Homo sapiens: one gene and its partners. The protein of the gene in region 2 interacts with the protein of the main gene of each other region in a pairwise test. Each region holds a gene or a part of one and is shown on either strand. Other genes may lie near its edges.

Evidence for each region.
Region 1: the proteins of TTC23 (region 2) and CREBZF interact in binary tests that used the Homo sapiens proteins (3 or more experiments, as listed by UniProt).
Region 3: the proteins of TTC23 (region 2) and ZFHX3 interact in binary tests that used the Homo sapiens proteins (3 or more experiments, as listed by UniProt).

What each region holds. Positions count from the first base shown.
Region 1 is NC_000011.10:85,657,465-85,661,830, forward strand, and holds the end of CREBZF (CREB/ATF bZIP transcription factor), read right to left. Parts: 3' UTR 526-4,366; downstream 1-525.
Region 2 is NC_000015.10:99,155,573-99,162,617, forward strand, and holds part of TTC23 (tetratricopeptide repeat protein 23), read right to left. Parts: intron 6,296-7,045; coding exon 6,168-6,295; intron 726-6,167; coding exon 576-725; intron 1-575. UniProt on the Homo sapiens protein: Participates positively in the ciliary Hedgehog (Hh) signaling.
Region 3 is NC_000016.10:72,954,104-72,961,148, forward strand, and holds part of ZFHX3 (zinc finger homeobox protein 3), read right to left. Parts: exon of another isoform or gene 6,092-7,045; 5' UTR 6,043-6,091; coding exon 3,324-6,042; intron 3,300-3,323; exon of another isoform or gene 3,144-3,299; coding exon of another isoform or gene 3,077-3,143; intron 1-3,076.

The sequences.
Region 1 (4,366 bases), on a different chromosome or scaffold from region 2:
TCACAGAAAAGTACCAAACAAAATTTTAAGTGGCATCCAAGATTATTCATGAATCTCTTAATTATTACTTCCAAATAGTGACATATCTGTTAAGTCATCTTATGCTACTTAAAATTATAATTTAGAAAAGGCATCTTTGTGAGTGAAACTGGCCTTTAGCTTCTGTTTAAAGAAAAACATAAAGCTGTGCTGCCAAAGATGAAAAACTCATGTGAAATTAATAAAATACAATCTCAATTTTTCAGAAAGCAAAGATGATTTGTTCTTTCAACAGGCACATAAAATATATTATCTACCAAACTTATATAAAAAATGATCCCAGTTATGAGGCAAAAGAATCTATGTGCACAAGAGACTGAAAGGAAGCATGCCAAAATGTTTACTGTGGATATTCTATGGCTTATAGAGTTATAAGGGTGATTTTTCTTTTCTTCTTGATTCCTTTCAGGATATTCCAAGTTTTCTATAAAGAATATGCTTTACTTTTACAACTAGGGAAAGAAAGACAGAAAAATATATATAACATTTAAAGGGCAAAACAATATAGCTGTTTATTTTACAGGCTAAAATATCAAGATGAAAAGCTCTGATCCCAAATCATCCATTTTACCTATATTCTGTCACTTTTACTAAAAGCAGAGTTCTACTCATCCCAGTGAAAAAAACAATGAATTAAAAGTAATTTCTGGCGTTAACCCAAGTACCGAGTTAAGACTCCTTAAGAATATAGAATTATGTAATCAACTTAGATAATTCAAAGCCCAATGATATAACTAAGTTCTTTGACGATTGAGCACACATTGTTTCCTTACTTATCTTTAAACATTCCTAGTCCAATTACTCCCTAGCATAATACCATTTATAAATGAGGATGAGTTTACAATGGTTTCTGTAACCAAAAAGTATTTCTAATATCTGTCCTCTGCCACATATTTTTAAATTATCTTTTCCATTAGCAGAAATGGGCAACATAAGCAATAAATCATGTTAAGTCTGTTGCTACAAATTTACTTTGCCAAAATTTTTGTTCAGAGGGCAGATATCTGCATTATTTAAGGACATTTAGTCATTTGTAGCTAACACCTGAAGTAAACTACCCTCAATCAATTTTTATATTTCAGTCTAGTCACTGTAGACAAACTATTTAAATCTTTTATAATTTACTTTGTGTAGTTATTTGGCTTAAAAAAAAAAAAAGAGGGCTCACATTCTATTTAAATTAAGACAATATATTTTATAAAGCCCAAATTATAGTACACTAAGAGCCAGAGGGGTCTAGGGAATTGATCTCAGTGGGTATACAGCAAAGACAAAATTTGGAGGCAGACGCTAAAGGAAGTTGAGATAAATAAAATTCAAATCAGTGTATTAACAGAACTACACAAATGTTTACAACACAGTAACTACACTTTTCAATTAGTTCATTGTGAAAACTGAGCAAAATATTTTCAACAATTTTGGGTCAACAAAAAGTATGGAATATTTTAAGACAATAAAGAGTGACTGGTGTTGAGAGTACTGAGGCTACACAGAGGTACTGAAATTCAAATCTGAAAAATACTGTGCTGGCCACACAACACTACAAATTTCTAATGGAAGAATTCCCTTTTTGATCCGCAGCTTAGGTGGTAAGTAAATAAAAAAACAGCTCAGAAAAACAGCAAAAATATTAACATTTAGGAGTCTCAAAACTTTGTATTGGCTGTGAGTCTGGGGGAAAAAAACATAAATGTCATACTACCAATTAAACTTTCAAGAGTCATCAGATTATTTAGCTTTAAAATTTTACTAAATCAGACCTTAAACTACACATTCAAAATGCTGAACTAGATAATCACATATTAAAAAGGTAATGACTCATTATCAGTGAATTACCCAGTCTGTTCTATCAAAGTAGTAGTTAAGGTCACCAAATAATGTTGGTGCCTTTGGTTCTGGAATTATAACTAGCTGTACTGTAGGAGCATCAGCGCCTAAGTTTTAAGCCAGTGGGAATACTCTGCTGCCTGGCTTCACAGGCACTGAATACACTTAAAATGGTAAGAAACTGAATGGATTTAATAAGTTTTGAATAATACAATAACCAACTGTATATTTATTATGAAGTAAAAGCCAATCTCCTACCCAATCCCTCTTCTATCAGCTGCACATTTCCAAGTAAGTGAGATAAAATGACTCAATCTAAACCACGTGAAGGAATGTATTAACATAATCCAACAAAAATGAAATAAAACAATCCAGAGTTTTGAGTGTTTTTTCACACTTGTAATAAACTGAAAAAATATTTCAATTAAAACAACCATATGCCACAAAAAGCCACTCCCATCATCCACAATACTAAAGTCCTTATACAACACTAGATAAATTTTTATATAAAACAGTAGAAACTAGCATACCATTAATTAGAAACCTCAAAATATTCAGAAAACAGTATCAAGTACTCAAGAGAAAGCTCAAGAAGCCAAAACCTCAAGAATCCATACATCCTGGTTGTTACCCTAAATTGTAATTAACTACCCACACATTTAATCATAATCAACTTTTTCAAAGATATACAAATCAATGCATCTATTTAAAAGGACTACTCTTTATAGTTCAGAACTTTACATTAACTTTTATATTCTACTCAGCAGGGTGTCTGTCTGTACTCCAAATTAGCTCTCATGTTCCAGGAAATAAATACAAACTCATATGCCTTGTGATCACTGATGGCCTGCTTATGTAATTCTAGTCCACTAAATGTTAATTCCATAGAATATGCTCTTGATTATGTAAAAACTCTAATTTCTTGATGAAATACTGTAATTCTCCAAAGGTTACAATTTTGTAAAGATATGCAATAACTGAGTATCACTCCCATGAAAGACAAAAAAAGTATAATTTTGTTCCAAGATTAACTTAGTCTCATGTATCTCTATTAAGTCTTTCAAGGATTCCAGAGAATCTTTTCATATCTCCATTTCTGGAAAGTGAAATCAGTATAGAAGTAATTTGGGAACTTGAAAATGGCATTCATTTTTTTCAGCAGATGCCAAATTTTTGACCGACATGGTTCTCACAATTACTTTGTTACCAACAGTCCAGTCAGTTAACAGGTTGTAGGAAAAGATTCGTTTTTGCAGACACTGCTAAGCTGTTCAAAGAGAAGAGAGAGAGATTAATTTAGTGATTATAAAATGCACAAATATTTAAAATATTTTGAACACTTCTTGTTGGATTATATCAGAGGTGTGACTACATTTTAACAAAAGTGGACTTTTTAAGATAAGTCTGGTCAAAGAAGTGCAGAAACAGTAAGTCAATATGATAGAAATAGTAGGTCAAAATATGATGTGTTAGTTCAATTAATGTATGAACTCCTGCCACCATCAAAAGACAAATATTAAAAAGCTACATCTTTAGTCTAGTTCTGTATTTTACCAGAGGCACATTTAGAAGAAAAACAAAAGGGTCACCCAAATACTAAATTGTTTTCAACCATTACAGTAAATAGAGCCAAACCTAGAAATTTCAAAAACAATCCATTTTATATTCCAGAAATCTCCTTTATCCATGTGCTAATCATCCAGAACACAATTTTCTAAAAATAGTAAGACAACAGTTTCACATTAATCATAACTTTTTTAATTAACAAGTAGTGAATCGGACACTTTAAGATATTGTTTACTACATACTGAAATAAACAGATCTGTTTAAATTCAGAAACCCAAACATTTACAGTAAAATGTGCTTACACATAAATATGACCAAATTTATTTAAAGCCCCTATTAGATAGATCCTAAGTACATGCAATTACCATGTAAAAACAAGACCATGAAGTTGATGTAAAAAATGACAAAATCACTAAGTCACCAAAACTAGAAAAAAAAAAATGAAATGGAAACTGAGAAAAGACAGTTAATAAAACATAAGGAACCTAACAAAGCAGCTTTAAAAATAGGCCATACTAATCCTTCCATTTTCAAAAGTTCTTATCAAGTAATTCCAAAAACTGCCATTTATAAAATGACATTCTAAAAATCTACACTTGGAATTTCAAAGTATCTCAATTCAGAAAGCTTTGACTACTGTTTCTCCCCAGCCCACAATTTCAAATAATGCAGGAAAAGTATTGACGTAAGGAAGAAAATACTCCAACAGAATGTTATAGTTTTTAGAAAAATGAACTTACTGCTTTCCAGAACCTTTTAAGACCCACAGTCAGCATTAACAATCATTTTTCCTATTTTCATCCATTATTTTCCAATATCATGTTAGAGATGAATAAATTCTTTGAGCCCATAACTAAAAGATCAACAAACCTGGTTTTATTATGACACCATATTTTTGTCATTGGTACTGCACAAAATTATATACAAAGAAATA
Region 2 (7,045 bases):
TGAAATATTGACACATGAATAAACAGAAAGACTAGTGGAAGAGAAGAGAAATCTAGAAATAGACTTAAGTCCATAAGGAAAATCAGTATATGATGAAGGTGTTATCTGAAGTCACTGGAGCATAGATGGGCTCTCTAATTAAATGGTGCTGGACAACTGGGTGGCCATTTGGAAAAAAGGTAAGATTAGATCCATTCCTCATGCCATCCACACAAATAAACTCCAAATTTAAAGAAGAATGACAATTGAAGAAAGTGTAAGAGAATTCCTCTATAAACTCAGTATAGAGAGAGCACCGCAAACATAAAGGACTGATCAATTGTACTACGTAAAAAATTAAAAATATTTGCATAGTAAAAACTGATAATTCATTTAAAAAATATGTATGTCTAAGAGGCTTACTATGTCTTTTACCCAAAAAGTATCAGGTTAGATCTACCACAAAAGTGATGTCATCCTATCTAAACAAGCCACTTCTAAAGTTTCATTTAAAAGAACCACCACAAGGGAGAGAAATTGACCTTGGAGAGGGGAGGGAGAGCCTAGTCTCGTGTTAGTACTGGTTCCAGCTTTACCTTCTTCAGTTTCTTGCGGGCCCCACTGTGGTTCCCCTGCGCCAGGTCTGCTCCTCCCAGGAGCCGGTATGTCTCTGCCACCTCGGGACTGAAATCGCCAAATGCTTCCACTTTGGCTTCCAGGGACTCTCTCAGGATCGAGGTTGCTCTCTGTGAAAGGAACAAAAAGCTATCTGGTTAACAAGCTCAAAGGCTGATTAGGATCATTACGCAACTTGTAACATTTTCACATGGGTGTGGTAGTCTCACGAGCTGAGCCTGTTCTCCTCTTGTATTAGTCCATTCTCATGCTGCTATGAAGAGATACCTGAGACTGGGTAATTTATAAAGCCAAGAAGTTTAATTGACTCACAGTTCCACATGGGTGGGGAGGCCTCAGAAAACTTACAATCATGGCAGAGGGCACCTCTTTCATAGGGCAGCAGGAGAGATAAGTGCTGAGCAAAGGGGGCAAAGCCCCTTATAAAACCATCAGATCTTGTGAGAATTCAGTCACTATCGCAAGAACGGCATGGGGGTAACCGCACCCATGGTTCAATCACCTCCCACAGGGTCCCTACCATGACACATGGGTATTATAGGAACTATAATTCAAGACGAGATTTGGGTGGGGACACAGCCAAATCATATCACCTCTGGTTGAACAAGAGTCAGGAAACAACACGAATGTGAGGAAAGGTGTAAACTATGAAGAGAGAGGACACCTGGCAAAATAAACCCACTCAGCCATTACAGGAATCCATTTCAGTTGAGTAGTAAGAACAAAAGCTGACATGGATCAGTCCTCACATGTCACTAATTGTGCTGAACACACACAATTGTGTGGGTCTCATTTAATTTTTGCTGTCTTCTTTAGATGGGTAAAATTTTAATCCTCATTAGGCAGAGGAGGAAACAGGCACGGCAGTTAAGAAACTTGCTCAGAGTCAGAGGGCTCAGCTGTGGTGGTGCTAGGATCTGAATCCAGCCAGTGATCTTCATACCTTTTTTTTTTTTTTTTTTTAAATCCGTCTCACCGTCTCAGCAGATCTTCCATTTTACAACAGCAGGTGGAAATCTGGAGGTTTTTTTTTTTTTTTTTTTAGACAGAGTCTCTCTTTGTCTACCAGCCTGGAGTGCAGTGGCATGATCTCAGCTCTCTGCAACCTCTGCCTCCCAGGTTCAAGCGATTCTCCTGCCTCATCCTCCCAAGTAGCTGGGATTGCAGGCGCCCACCACCATACCCAGCTAATTTTTGTATTTTTAGTAGAGACAGGGTTTCACCATGTTGGCCAGACTGGTCTTGAACTCCTGACCTCAAGTGATCCACCCACCTTGGCATCCCAAAGTGCTGGGATTACAGGCGCGAGCCACAATGCCCAGTCTAATTTTCATACATTTTAGTCCCATGCTTTTCTCCCTCTGTCCACAATGCTATTCTTACAGAAGTGAAAATATAGCATTCCTGGGCAAATTATCTATGTATAGAACATCCTGAACACACTCCAGGCTTGGCTATTCTCATAGGAAATCGTTTAGGAAACTGAAAGTAAACATTCCAACATGACATGACATTTTGTTTGGTTTATCCAATTTATTTATACTAACATGGAATAAAAATTATGAATTGGTCAGGACATAGTATTTCCTGATATTAGCTTCTTCAGACACCAAAATATGCAGGGGGAAACCCTGTTAAAGTATGTCAATCCTCCATACTTTCTCCAGAAATTCTTCCACGATCTTCCACATGAAGGCACGACATCAGCTGCAGAGCATGGATGCTGAATTTAACTGGCAAATACAGCAGGGACCATGGGAGCTTCCTCATGACACAGCCCCAAAGGGGTCCCAAAAGTGCTCCACAAACAGAAGGACAAGGAGGGCGTTTAATCCTTTTGTTGGCAATAATACAAGTTAGGGGATAGGGCCGGGGTAGGGGAACCACATTACAGGTGCTGATGAGGCAGAAATAAATTTCTCAGGTGAAAGAGGAATCTCTGTAGAGGCAGAGTGATTGTGTAACTCAGCAGTGAGGCCCCACTGAGGTACATGAGGGACTAGAATTTAAATCTAGACTTGCCTGAGGGTAAAGCCCATCACATCTCCCAAGTTCTGAGAGCAAGGACTTGGACTGCTGAGAGTGCTGGGTTTGGTGATATTTCTGTGGGAAAATATCACTGTCAGACTTAGAGGAGCCAGTGATGGGGAGAAGACCCGGGGAGACTCCCTTTCCCAGATAAAGCTTTGGATGCCGCCTACAGCCTGACTGCGGAAACGGGGAGATGTGAAGGAAGTTAAATGGCACGGGTTTCTAGGAAACTGAGATAGTATCAACCTCTGCTAGGAAAAGCTTAAGAGAGAGGAGTGAAGAGTAAAGAGGACTTAGGTGGGATGAGAAGAGGGTATGGGCCACTGGGAGCACAGGAGGAACACATGGCCTGTTGAGGGCCAGTGAGTGGCCAGGCTGAGGAAGTCACAGAAGATTCTTGAGCAAAAGAGTGGCACAACTAGAAGACAAACCCTCACGGAGTAGCTTAACCTGTGGCAGAGTGACCTTCACTTACATTTTACCTTAAAAGGCATTTCATCCCTCAAATATCATGTTCCACAGTGCCCATGGCCATGTGCTGTGGGAACACCTGGGATGGCCTGAGCACAGCCCCATTCTTGGCTCCGGGACTGTCCCTGGGCCCGGCCCTTGTTGGCCAACACCTGCTAGAACCCACAGTGAGAGGTTTGCAACCAAATGGTGAGAACAGCATGAGACTGCCATGTTTGGCTGGGCAGGTGGTGCCACACACAAGGGTGCCTGGCAGGAGCATGGGGAGGGCTGAAATCCAGCCTATGGTCCTCTCCAACATGGGCGGTATCTACCTGAGGAAGGGGCAGCTTTTTCTATTATGATAAGGGCATTGGATGGGCTGGCAGTGGCCCTAGAATGAAAAGAGCCAGTTTGCTAAAATCTTCGAGGGCAGCTTAGGAGAGTGAGGTGCATCTTTTGATCAACACTGATCTGGGTGACTTGGGCAAGGGCAGTGAGGCATAGCATCAGTGACACTGAGCATTGGCTGACTCAGCAAGACACTATGGTGGGAAGCCAGGCAGTACAGGGGAACTGATGCATGGCCCACAGGAGTCAGAACAGTCAGCTGGCCTGTGGCCAAACATGCATCCACCTCTCTGCTCATCACTCCTCACCACAGGCAAGAGGGTCTCTGCTTTCACAGGTTCGGTCTAGTTGCAAGATAGATGTTAAATATCCACATGAATATATACTTACAAATATTTGATGACATCAAATGGATTCTCTAAGGAAGAATAATGGGGAGTATCTAATGAAGCCTGGGGAGAGGAATCAGAGAAGCTGGTAAGAAATGAAGAATGGGTTAGCATTGGCCTGGAGATGAATGAGGAAGGGCCTTCCAGGAGGAGGAAACAGAAGCTGGCACTGCCCGGAAGTGGGAATTAGAAAAGGCCAGTGTGGCAGGAACATGGATCAGGGAGAGGAGGCAAAAATGAGCCTGGAAATGTCAGTGGAGTCCAGGTCGTGGACGGTACTGTGGGCCATGTCAGGATTCTGGTTTATCCTGAGGGCATCGGGGAGCCAGTGGACTGGCTTTTACAAGTGAGTGTTCAGTGGTCAGATCTGCTTTTTGGAAACATCACCATGGCTTCCTTATTCTGAGTGGATTAGAAGAGGGCAAGCATGGAAAAAGCAGCTGAGAGATAGGAACTTGTTAGAGCGGTCCAGGCAAGAGATGATGAGTGGCAGGACTAAAGATGGAAAACAATGGATGCATTCAAGATCTATTTTGGAGGAAAAAATGGCTGAGGAACTAGATGGAGTGGGGCATGAGGGGGCAAACCTACCCCATTATTCTGACCTGAGCACTCCCCTTGTCTTCTAGAGATGTGAGGGGGGAATGGGGAGGGAGTCTGAGGCCCCTGGAAGGCCCCTCTCTCTCCCTGGGGTTGGGTGACTGAGAAACATCCTGAAACTCCAATTTGTCCTGGTGATTGTGGCCCTACTTTGGCCTGAGAAACATAGGTATATCGGCATAAAAGCCCGTGTTCCCTAGCTGACAGAAGGCGGGGGTGGAGGGGGGATTAAGGATGAGAAAAGAGCTGTGGGGGAGGAGGTCTACAGACGGTAAGGGAAATAAAGTTTTTCATTTCCAAGATTTGCCATGATAGGTTAGAGTTGAAAAAAATACATAGTCAGCCCTCCATATCCATAGATCAAAAATTATATGGGAAAAAACAATAAAAATAACAATACAACAATAAAAACAATACAAATAAAAAATACAGTGTAACAACTACTACCATAGCATTTACATTGTATTAGGTATTATAAGCAATCTAGAGATGATATAAAGTATTCAGGAGGCTTTGTCTAGGTTATATACAAATGTGACACCATTTTGTACAAGGGCTTGAGCATCCTTGGAGTTTGATATCCTTGGGGGCTCTGGAACCAATCCCCCACAGATACTGAGGAACAACTATATATATATGTGTGTGAGTGTGTATATATGTATGTATGTATGGTTTTCTAGGAAATTGAGATGGCGTTAACCTCTGATAAGAAAAGCTTAACAGAGGCCGGGCGCAGTGGCTCACGCCTGTAATCCCAGCACTTTGGGAGGCTGAGGCGGGCGGATCACGGGGTCAGGAGTTCAAGATCAGCCTAGCCAAATGGTGAAACCCCAACTCTACTAAAAATACAAAAAAATTAGCTGGGCATGGTGGCGGGGGCCTGTAATCCCAGCTACTCGGGGGGCTGAGGCAGAAAATTGCTTGAACCCAGGAGGCGGAGGTTGCAGTGAGCTGAGATTGCACCACTGCACTCCAGCTTGGGTGACAGAGCAAGACTCTGTCTCAAAAAAAAAAAAAAAAAAACTTAACGGAGAGGAGTGAAAAGTAAACAGGACTTAGGTGCGCTGAGAAGAGGGTGTGGGCATACATGCACACATACATATATACATATATATGCACACACATATATATAATTGTTCCTATCTGTGGGCGATTGTATATATATATATGTATTAATATGTACACACACACACATATATAAAAACATAAAGCAATGGTATGTTAGGCTTTGCAGGGAATGCATTCCCAAGGGTTTAATTCCCAATGAATATAAGGTCTGGGTCTTGCTCTATTTTCATAAGCCACGTAAATCACGCTTGTACGAATCAATACTAAACAACTGAGCTGTAACTTCTGCACCGTATAGTTTTCCTTAGACATGCAAACTCCATTCATTACCCAAACTGAGGAGAGAGGGATTAGACACACTAACTGCCACACTATTCCAGCCAGATCTGCAGGACTTCAATAAGCAGGGCCTGTCCACTATTTCTTTAGGATCTTTTGTAGGTGGGCATGACAATCTATATTCTCATAAAGTCTCCCAGCTTCTAAGAGCAAGTATCTCTGGAAGCTGCCCCAAAGGAGCCCTAGCCTTATTTATGTGTCCCTCTAGAGACTGGCACATGCTTTGCACACAGTAGATGCTTAATGGATGCTTGCAGAGTAAAGGAGTTGCCCTTTGGATATCAACTGTGAATAACTAGACAATTGTGATCCAAACTCACTTACCTCTTTTTGTCCAGTCATTTGTAGAAAATGGCAAAATTCATCTTGAATTGAAAGAAATTTGGTTCTTCCCATCCCTTCAGAATCCTTAAGATGAGCCATGCTCTCTTGAAAATACTGCTCAGCTACATCTGAAGAAAAGCATTTATCATAACTTTGAAAACTGCTCACAGATTTGAAATGGAAACAGAATAAATATACTGTTAGCAGTGTTGAGCTATTTGGAAAGAGGTATTGGGACAAGAAAAAACAGTTAAGACTGTCCTTTGCCCATTAATCTGCCTGTTTCATTAGAAAGGATTTAGGTCTTGAAGGATACCGTAATTTACTTTCTTTAATTTTCATACATCTAGCTTTCCCGGTGATACATAAAGAAAAGTTACTGCAAAAGAAGAAACTATGCCCCACATCTGAACACACTGGTAAGTTTTCAGGTTGATCAACCACTAATTCTTCCTATAACTTTAGTTATAGGGTAACTATGACTTTACTGAGGGTAGGACTCTGAAAGTTCACTTATTTTGATGGATTTGGAGTATAATCTTGGTACATATTTCTAAAACATGAAAAATCTGGAAAATATTGCTGACATGCCGCTGAGGGAAGAAATCATTCAAAACCCCAATCATTCCAAATACTTCAACATACTGGTTATAATATAACACAAATATTTTTAAATGCATGCCAATCTTGAATGCAAGAAAAAGAAAACCTCAGGTATGGAAAATGACGAGAGAACTAAAAGCCAGAGAAGTGAGCGGGAGCTGAGGTTGAATGGCCCGTAAGCATATTAGAAAAAAGGTCCATCTACTAGTACTGGGGTTTTCTAAGCCTGAGCAGGACTAGGGATGAAGCCTGAGGCTCATTTGTGGTGGAAAGCT
Region 3 (7,045 bases), on a different chromosome or scaffold from region 2:
TCACACCTGTCATCCCAGCACTTTGGGAGGCCAAGGTGGGCAGATCACCTGAGGTCAGGAGTTCAAGACCAGCCTGGCCAATGTGGTGAAATCCTGTCTCTACTGAACACACAAAAATTAGCTAGGCATGGTGGCGCATGCCTGTAATCCCAGCTACTCGGAAGGCAGAGGCAGAAGAATTGCTTGAACCCGGGAGGCAGGGGCTGCAGTGAGCCGAGACTGCGCTATTGCACTCCAGCCTGGGCGACAAGAGTGAAACTCCATCTCAAAAAAAAGAAATGAAAAAAAGAACTTGGCAGGTCCTTAGTCTTGAGCCACACTGGATACGTGGTCTTGGAGCAGGTCCCCATCTCTGGGTATGCACCTAACTCTAACACTGGAACTGACACCTTGACACGTGAGCCCACCCATCAGCACATCCTCAGGAAGGTGCATGGATTCAAAGGCACACTCTGGAATGAAAGGGAGACGAAGGGAGCTGCTAAACCTTGTGCAGGTGTCCAGGGGCTGGCTGGCTACTTGGGAAACACACAGCCACCCCGACAAGCAACCCCTTTCTTGGTGCTATGCTAAACTTCAGAGTCGAAAGGAAGGTTTGGGAGGATGTTCACAAGGCCTCAAATCTAATGTGCTGTCTACAAAGAGCAGCAGATCCGACTGTACTAGGCGAAGGAGCCCCAAGCCTTTCCTCAAAGGCTTCTGAAAAGAAGCAACCCCACAATCAGTGTCTGTTTGATGATACTAAAGAGGGCTCTGCCAAGGGAAGTATGAAAACAATCACCTTGTAAAGAGGAGTGTATTTCACAAAAACATTTTTCTCCCTGCAGAACTCAGTCACATCTAATAACACCTACAGCCATCTTATAAATGGACCATGGGGAAAAAAAACCAGTACAGCCACAGCTAGAACTGAAAGTTATGGCTGTTTTTATTTGCATAAGTTGGTTTCTCCTACTGAGGTCATACAACTCAAATTCCAAGTCTTTTGGACACTTCCTATGGCCCCCACACCCACTCGAGCTTCTGGCATAAAGGATTTGTGGCTCTCACACCTTCTCAGCAGTTTTCGCGGCCCAAGGAAGGCACAGGTTTCCAGGGACTCCCCGTGGCCGACAAGTAGTGACACTGGAAATTCAAGAGCCCTTTGTGACTGAGCTGGATAAATCCTTTGGGAGGAAGAGCTCCAGTCTAAGAAATATGGTGTGGCCCTTCCATGTGTGTCTACAACACAGGGCTTCATTCTTCTGCTCCTTCTGAATCTGCCGCAATGCCCAGGACAGTGCATGATGCCCCAAAGACTCACAGACACTTGGTGTGAAAGCGAAATATTTCTCTACTTCTCAATACAAGCCTTAGTTACCTGTTCTTAAGGTAATTAAAAAGCCTCACTTTAGGCTGGGCACAGTGGCTCATGCCTGTAATCCCAGCACTTTGGGAGGCCAAGGCGGGCAGATCACCTGAGGTCAAGGGTTTGAGACCAGCCTGGCCAAGATGGTGAAGCCCCATCTCTACTAAAAACACAAAATTAGCCAGGCATGGTGGCGGGTGCCTGTAATCCCAGCTACTTGGGAGGCTCTGGCAGGAGAATCGCTTGAACACAGGAGGTGGATGTTGCAGTGAGCCGAGACGGCACCACTCACTCCAGCCTGGGTGACAGAGCGAGACTCTGTCTCAAAAAAAAAAAAAAAAAAACCCTCACTTTGACCCAACATGAACCTACCCACGTTCCCACGTTCTGTCTTCATTCCACCTCCGTTATGTTTGATTTGCTCCAAGATCTACCTCCCGAGATTCTATGACTCCTTCTAATTCCTACTGGCTTAAAGAAAACCTTAGAGTACTCACTCCCATCTCCTGGTGTGCATGGTTCACCCTGGTGACAAATAAGACGACCAGTGCTTGTGCATCCACAATTAGCCAGTTGGTTTCAAATACCCTCAAATCATTTGGTAATAAAGGATCAACAGGCAAATATTTCAAAATGGAAAATGAGATTAAAGTACTAAGGATTAAAAACTGAATACATAGCAAGAAAAACCAATGGAATGCTTTGAAATATAACTCATCGGCAACAATTAGCACTCAAACACCACACAAATAAACACTTGCCAACTGCTGAGGCCTGGCCCTGCAGTCATCTAAGCCATCCTGGAAAAAAAGTCCTCACTGACACTCTGTTGCCAAGAACAACCTATTCCCATGTCAATAATGGCATATTGCTTAATTCAGGCCATTGTCACTGGTCCCACGAAGTCCATTAGCAGCGTCACGGGATGGGACGCAGGCAGGATCCTGTTTGAAGCATACCGGGTGGAGGCACGAGTGGCCCAACTATCAGAAGGTTCTCATGAAACCCATCTGTAGATTGTTTTGGCAGCAGCAGCTATCCTCAAAGTGGCTGTGGTTCGTTCTACGTAAAAACTCAAAGTTTTTAGCACCCAAATCCTACACTCTTGGTCCTATTCTAGATATTGTAAGCCAATTGGTAAGACTGGGAGCCTGAACAGAGCCAAATCAGCTTCTCTAAAGCAGAGGTCATTCTTCCTGGCAGCGAAGGCTCCGCTAACCAGGATCTAACTGCTATTAAAAGTTAACTTTCCTTGATGGACAATTTTTACAACTTACTCATTTTTCATCTCTCACACCCCTCACAACAGTGCCACTGGGGAATTTAATTCCCAATTAATTTCCAACTATTCTAATCACCAAGTACTCATCAAAAATAAGCAAAAAAAAAAACATCTCTTTCATTGAGGTCCTCATAAATATACAGAGAACTTTGAGAAGTCTATCTGGATGGTTCCCTAGCTCGGCACAGAATCAGCCTTTAGTTATCTGAATAACGTACACTGTGGTTCCGAATTCCTATTATTAAGATGATTGTCTCTACTTAAATCATTGAGGTAACTGTCCCTAGTCCTCTTATTGAAATGATTGCCTCAGCTACAGTTTCCTGTAAGTTTCAGTAAATATTCGATGAAACCCCAAAGTTTTAGGTGATTATAGTGATTTTTCAAATTGAAAGAAGAGACAGAGAAAGAGAGAATGGGAACAGAAAACTAGAGGAAACACTCACATTTTAATCCTGGCCCCACGTAGCCAGAGTACAAGCATATCTCTTTTGAATGCATAAACTCTTCCATATGTACACACACAGTTCAAGGGATTCTTGAGAATACTTGATTGTAAGACACTCCAGTTTACACAAAAACCACTCGAGAAGACCAGAGTCAACTGAATCCACAGGACTATCTCACCCTATTCACCATTCTCCCTGGTTAAACTCCTATCATGAAAACAGACAAACACGTAGTCATCCTCACCTAGAGCAGGCGTCATGGCGGCCATGGGCCCGGCGGGATCCAGCTGGAATCCGCTCATCATGAACTGGGCGTCCGAGGCAGCACTGTCCATCTTCAGGTTGGGCAGGTTCATGTTCTGGGCCAGGTAGTATTGGTAGAGCTCGGCCTCGGCGGGTGAGGGCAGGCTGCCGAGGCCCAGGTGGCGGTTGTGTTGGATCTGGGTCATGTTCTGTTGCAGTAACATCATGTTATGCATGTGCTTCTCACTGGTCATGTGAATGCGGAGGTTCCTGGCCACGTTGGTCTCATAATCACACACCTCGCACCGCCAGGTGGGTTTGGTTTTTGGTTTGGTCGGCGAGGGGGCCCCGCAGGAGCTACTGATATTGGCTGCCGCCGCCGCCGCAGCCACCGCCGCCGCCGCCGCCCCGGCAGTGTGGCTGAAGACCTGCTCCCCCCCTCCATTCTGCAGGTTCTGCATGTTGTTGAGATGCTTGTCAGACTGCATATGAATACTGAGGTTGCCTTTGGTAGTTGTGGAGTAGTTACACACCTCGCAGCGGAAAGGCTTGTAACCACACGTGTAGCTCTCGCCTCGTGCCAGCCGGGGGTGGGGCTGCCCGCTTTTGCAGTAGACACAGGAGCCCCCCGGCTCCGGGTGCTTCTCCTTCATGTGTGCCTCCAGGGTCTGCTGGTACTTATAGTGCCAGTTGCACTTGGGGCACTTGAGTGTCTTACACGAGTTACGAGAATGCATCATGGTCATGTGGCCGCCCAGCGAGCGGGAGGAGCCCAGGACCGTGTCGCATTTGGGGCACTCCACGCCACTCCCCGAGGGGCACTCCCCAACCCCAAGCTCGCAGAGGGAGCCAGCGTGCTGGTGATGGGGAACGAAGCCCCCATCGTCACCCTCTGTGCTTTCATTTGGTTCTGGTGCTGTGGCATTGTCTTTATTGGCACTTTCGTCAGCGAAGTCCAGCCTCCTGCCGCCCTCTGCCACATTGGCCCTGACGCCCTCACTGTTAAAGCTTAAACGATTCCTCCTGTTCGCACCATCAAAGACAACAAAGGAAGAAGCAGAATTAGAACTAGTAGAAGCTGTGCCCCTCGACAGGGTCTGGAGCACGTTAGGCATTAAGGGGGAGTTAGAAATGCTTTGGTTTGAGAGAGCAAGGTCCTTTTTGCTGCTACTACCTGCTGCGGCCCCAGGCTCCTCATGGGGCCTGTCCTCCAGTTCCTCATCCAACTCGCTTGGAAAGAGTCCTTTGCAACCCTCGTCTTCCTCCTCCTCTTCTTCCTCCTCCTCTTCTTCCTCCTCCTCCTCCGCCTCTTCCTCCTCCTCTTCCTCCTCCGCCTCCTCTTCGGCTGGCTCTACCTTCTCAGAGAAGCAATCCCCGTCGCCCACTTCCTGCTTCTCTCCTTCTGCCGCCCCAGAGTCCTTGCCCTCTGAGGATTTGGTAGGACTGGAAGCCAGAGGCCCCAGGGGGACTGAGGTAATGGGGGTCTTCAGTACCGAGCTGGTGAGCCCGCCAAGGTTCAACAGGGTGCTGGGGGTCAAGAGACCAGCCTGGGGCTGCTCGGGGCCAGCGGCGGAGCCCGCTGGGAGAGCTTCCTCCCCTTCCATTCGAATGCCACTAAATTTACCATAAAAACTGTGTCCGGGGCCTATGAGGTTAGCTGTGGAAACTAAAGGGTGTTGAAAGTTTTTGTTTTTTGGTTCCAGAAAACTTACAAGGGGTTCCTTGTCTTTGCCGATCCCTTGGATGATAGCGGAGATGTTCTTATTGCTAAGAATTTTCCGCTCGTCTTCGCTCAGGGTCATTCGATGGTCATGCACCGCGTGGGTCACAAACGAACGGACGTACCCAAAGGAGAGTTTGCACAAGAAACACATCAGGATGGGCTTCCTCTTGCCATAGAGCACAAAGCCATCGAATTTGGACAGGTCCACATTGTTGGGAACATCTTTGGATACGCAGGAGCTTTTGGCAGAACCGTCGCTGTTCAGGTAATCCTTGTTGCTTTTGTGTCGCACGTCAAACACGCGGAAGCTGTGCAGGACGGGGCTGAGCCCCGCCAGGGCTGAGGTATTCGGGAAAGCCTGGTCTGGGCCCTCAAACCATTTCCCGAAGGATGAGGCTATGTGGAAAGTGTTGATGATCTGCGGGTACACGGGTGCAGCACACGAAGGGTCCCCTTGCTTGCCCCCCGCGCCAGGGAGAGAGTTCAGGAAAAGCGAGGGGAGAGGCCCACTGCCACTGCCACTCCCACAGGCGCCCCCGCCCTGGGTCAGCTGGCTCAGGCTCTCCACAATGTACGCGGAGCCGTCCGGCTGGTAGACGATCTCCCCGGCCAGGTTCTCCACGTCACTCTCCTCGTCCCCCTCCTCACCGGTGTCGCTGGCGCTCTCCTCTCTCAGGGGTGGCGGGGGGCGCGCGCTGGGGCAGTGGTGCTCCATGTAGGTCTGGAGGCTGGCAAAGGAGGCCGAACATTCGTTGCAGGTGACCTCCTTGCTGGCGGGCTCGGAGGGGGGCCCGGCCGACGCGGTGCTCTCCGCGAGGCGCTCATTGAAGGGGGCCCTCAGGCTGTCCAAGGGCCCGTGGCTCTCGCCTGTGGACTGCTCCATGCTACTGGGTTTGTCAGGGAGGTGGGTGCTGTTGAGTTCAGTCCATTGCTGGTGCTGAGGGATACCGCACCCATTGTCCTTCCCCGAGACGACGGGCGAGTCACAGCCTTCCATGGTAAGGCCTGCGTGGAGCTTTCATTGCACCCAGTACGGAGGCTCGGACCTGAAGGGCAGAGGCAAGGGGGGAGGAGGGAGAGAGGGGAAAGAGAGAGAGAAAGGAAAGAGGTTAGGAGGGCCGAGGCTGAGGTCCTACCGCACGGAGCGCTCTAAGAGGCTTCTGTCCACAACACAGAGACACAGGGCGGAGGGCGGGCCTGGGGACACTGCCCCACACGGTCCAGCACACAGGGGTGGCATGGCCGGGTCAACAGCCTGAGCGAGGGATATGGGGAAAGAAGGCCAGGAACAGCCCTCTTCGGCTTCGAATTGTCACCGCTCTGCCCCTGAAGACTAGCGGGAATTTCCATTCTTTGCCAGCATAGCTTCGATGGGCCACAGTGGAGAACGGACGCGTCATCTCTCCAGCCCTCTACGAGGTCACAGCCACAGCCCTACCACTTATGGACAGCTCACACGAAGTCAGCCCCGACTCCGCGCACTGTCTGTGGGTCAGGGGAACACAGGGGAGGGCTGAGAAGAGGGAGGTTCAATGTCCCTGGAAAAAGGACGGTAAAGTGGGATAACGCTCATGGATTTAGAACAATTGCAGCCGTCGCTTTTACTGACCATGGTTCTAGTTTGAGAAGTTCAAAGAAGGCGGGTGAGGACCCTGAGGTTCACAGGGCAGGTGTACAGGACTAGACACACTCCGAAAAGTCCTCTCCAGATCTGGGAGGCGTCAGTCCCATTTTACAAGCAGTAAAACAGAGGGGCTTCAATCTAAAAACTGGCTCAGTGCTAATCTCACCACCATGAAACAGAAGAAAAGATGGGTCCCCAGATTCCTGTCTCCTCCACCCATACCAGTCAAGCTCCCTGGCCTGTGACTCTAGCTGACTTCAGACTAAAACTACGTAGGTGCAAAACGTGAGCTTGGTATTTCCAGCAGGAATGGACCAGACTCTGGATCTGCCAACACCCCCTCCAGCAGCTTCTATCTGGCCCTGGCTGGAGGGAG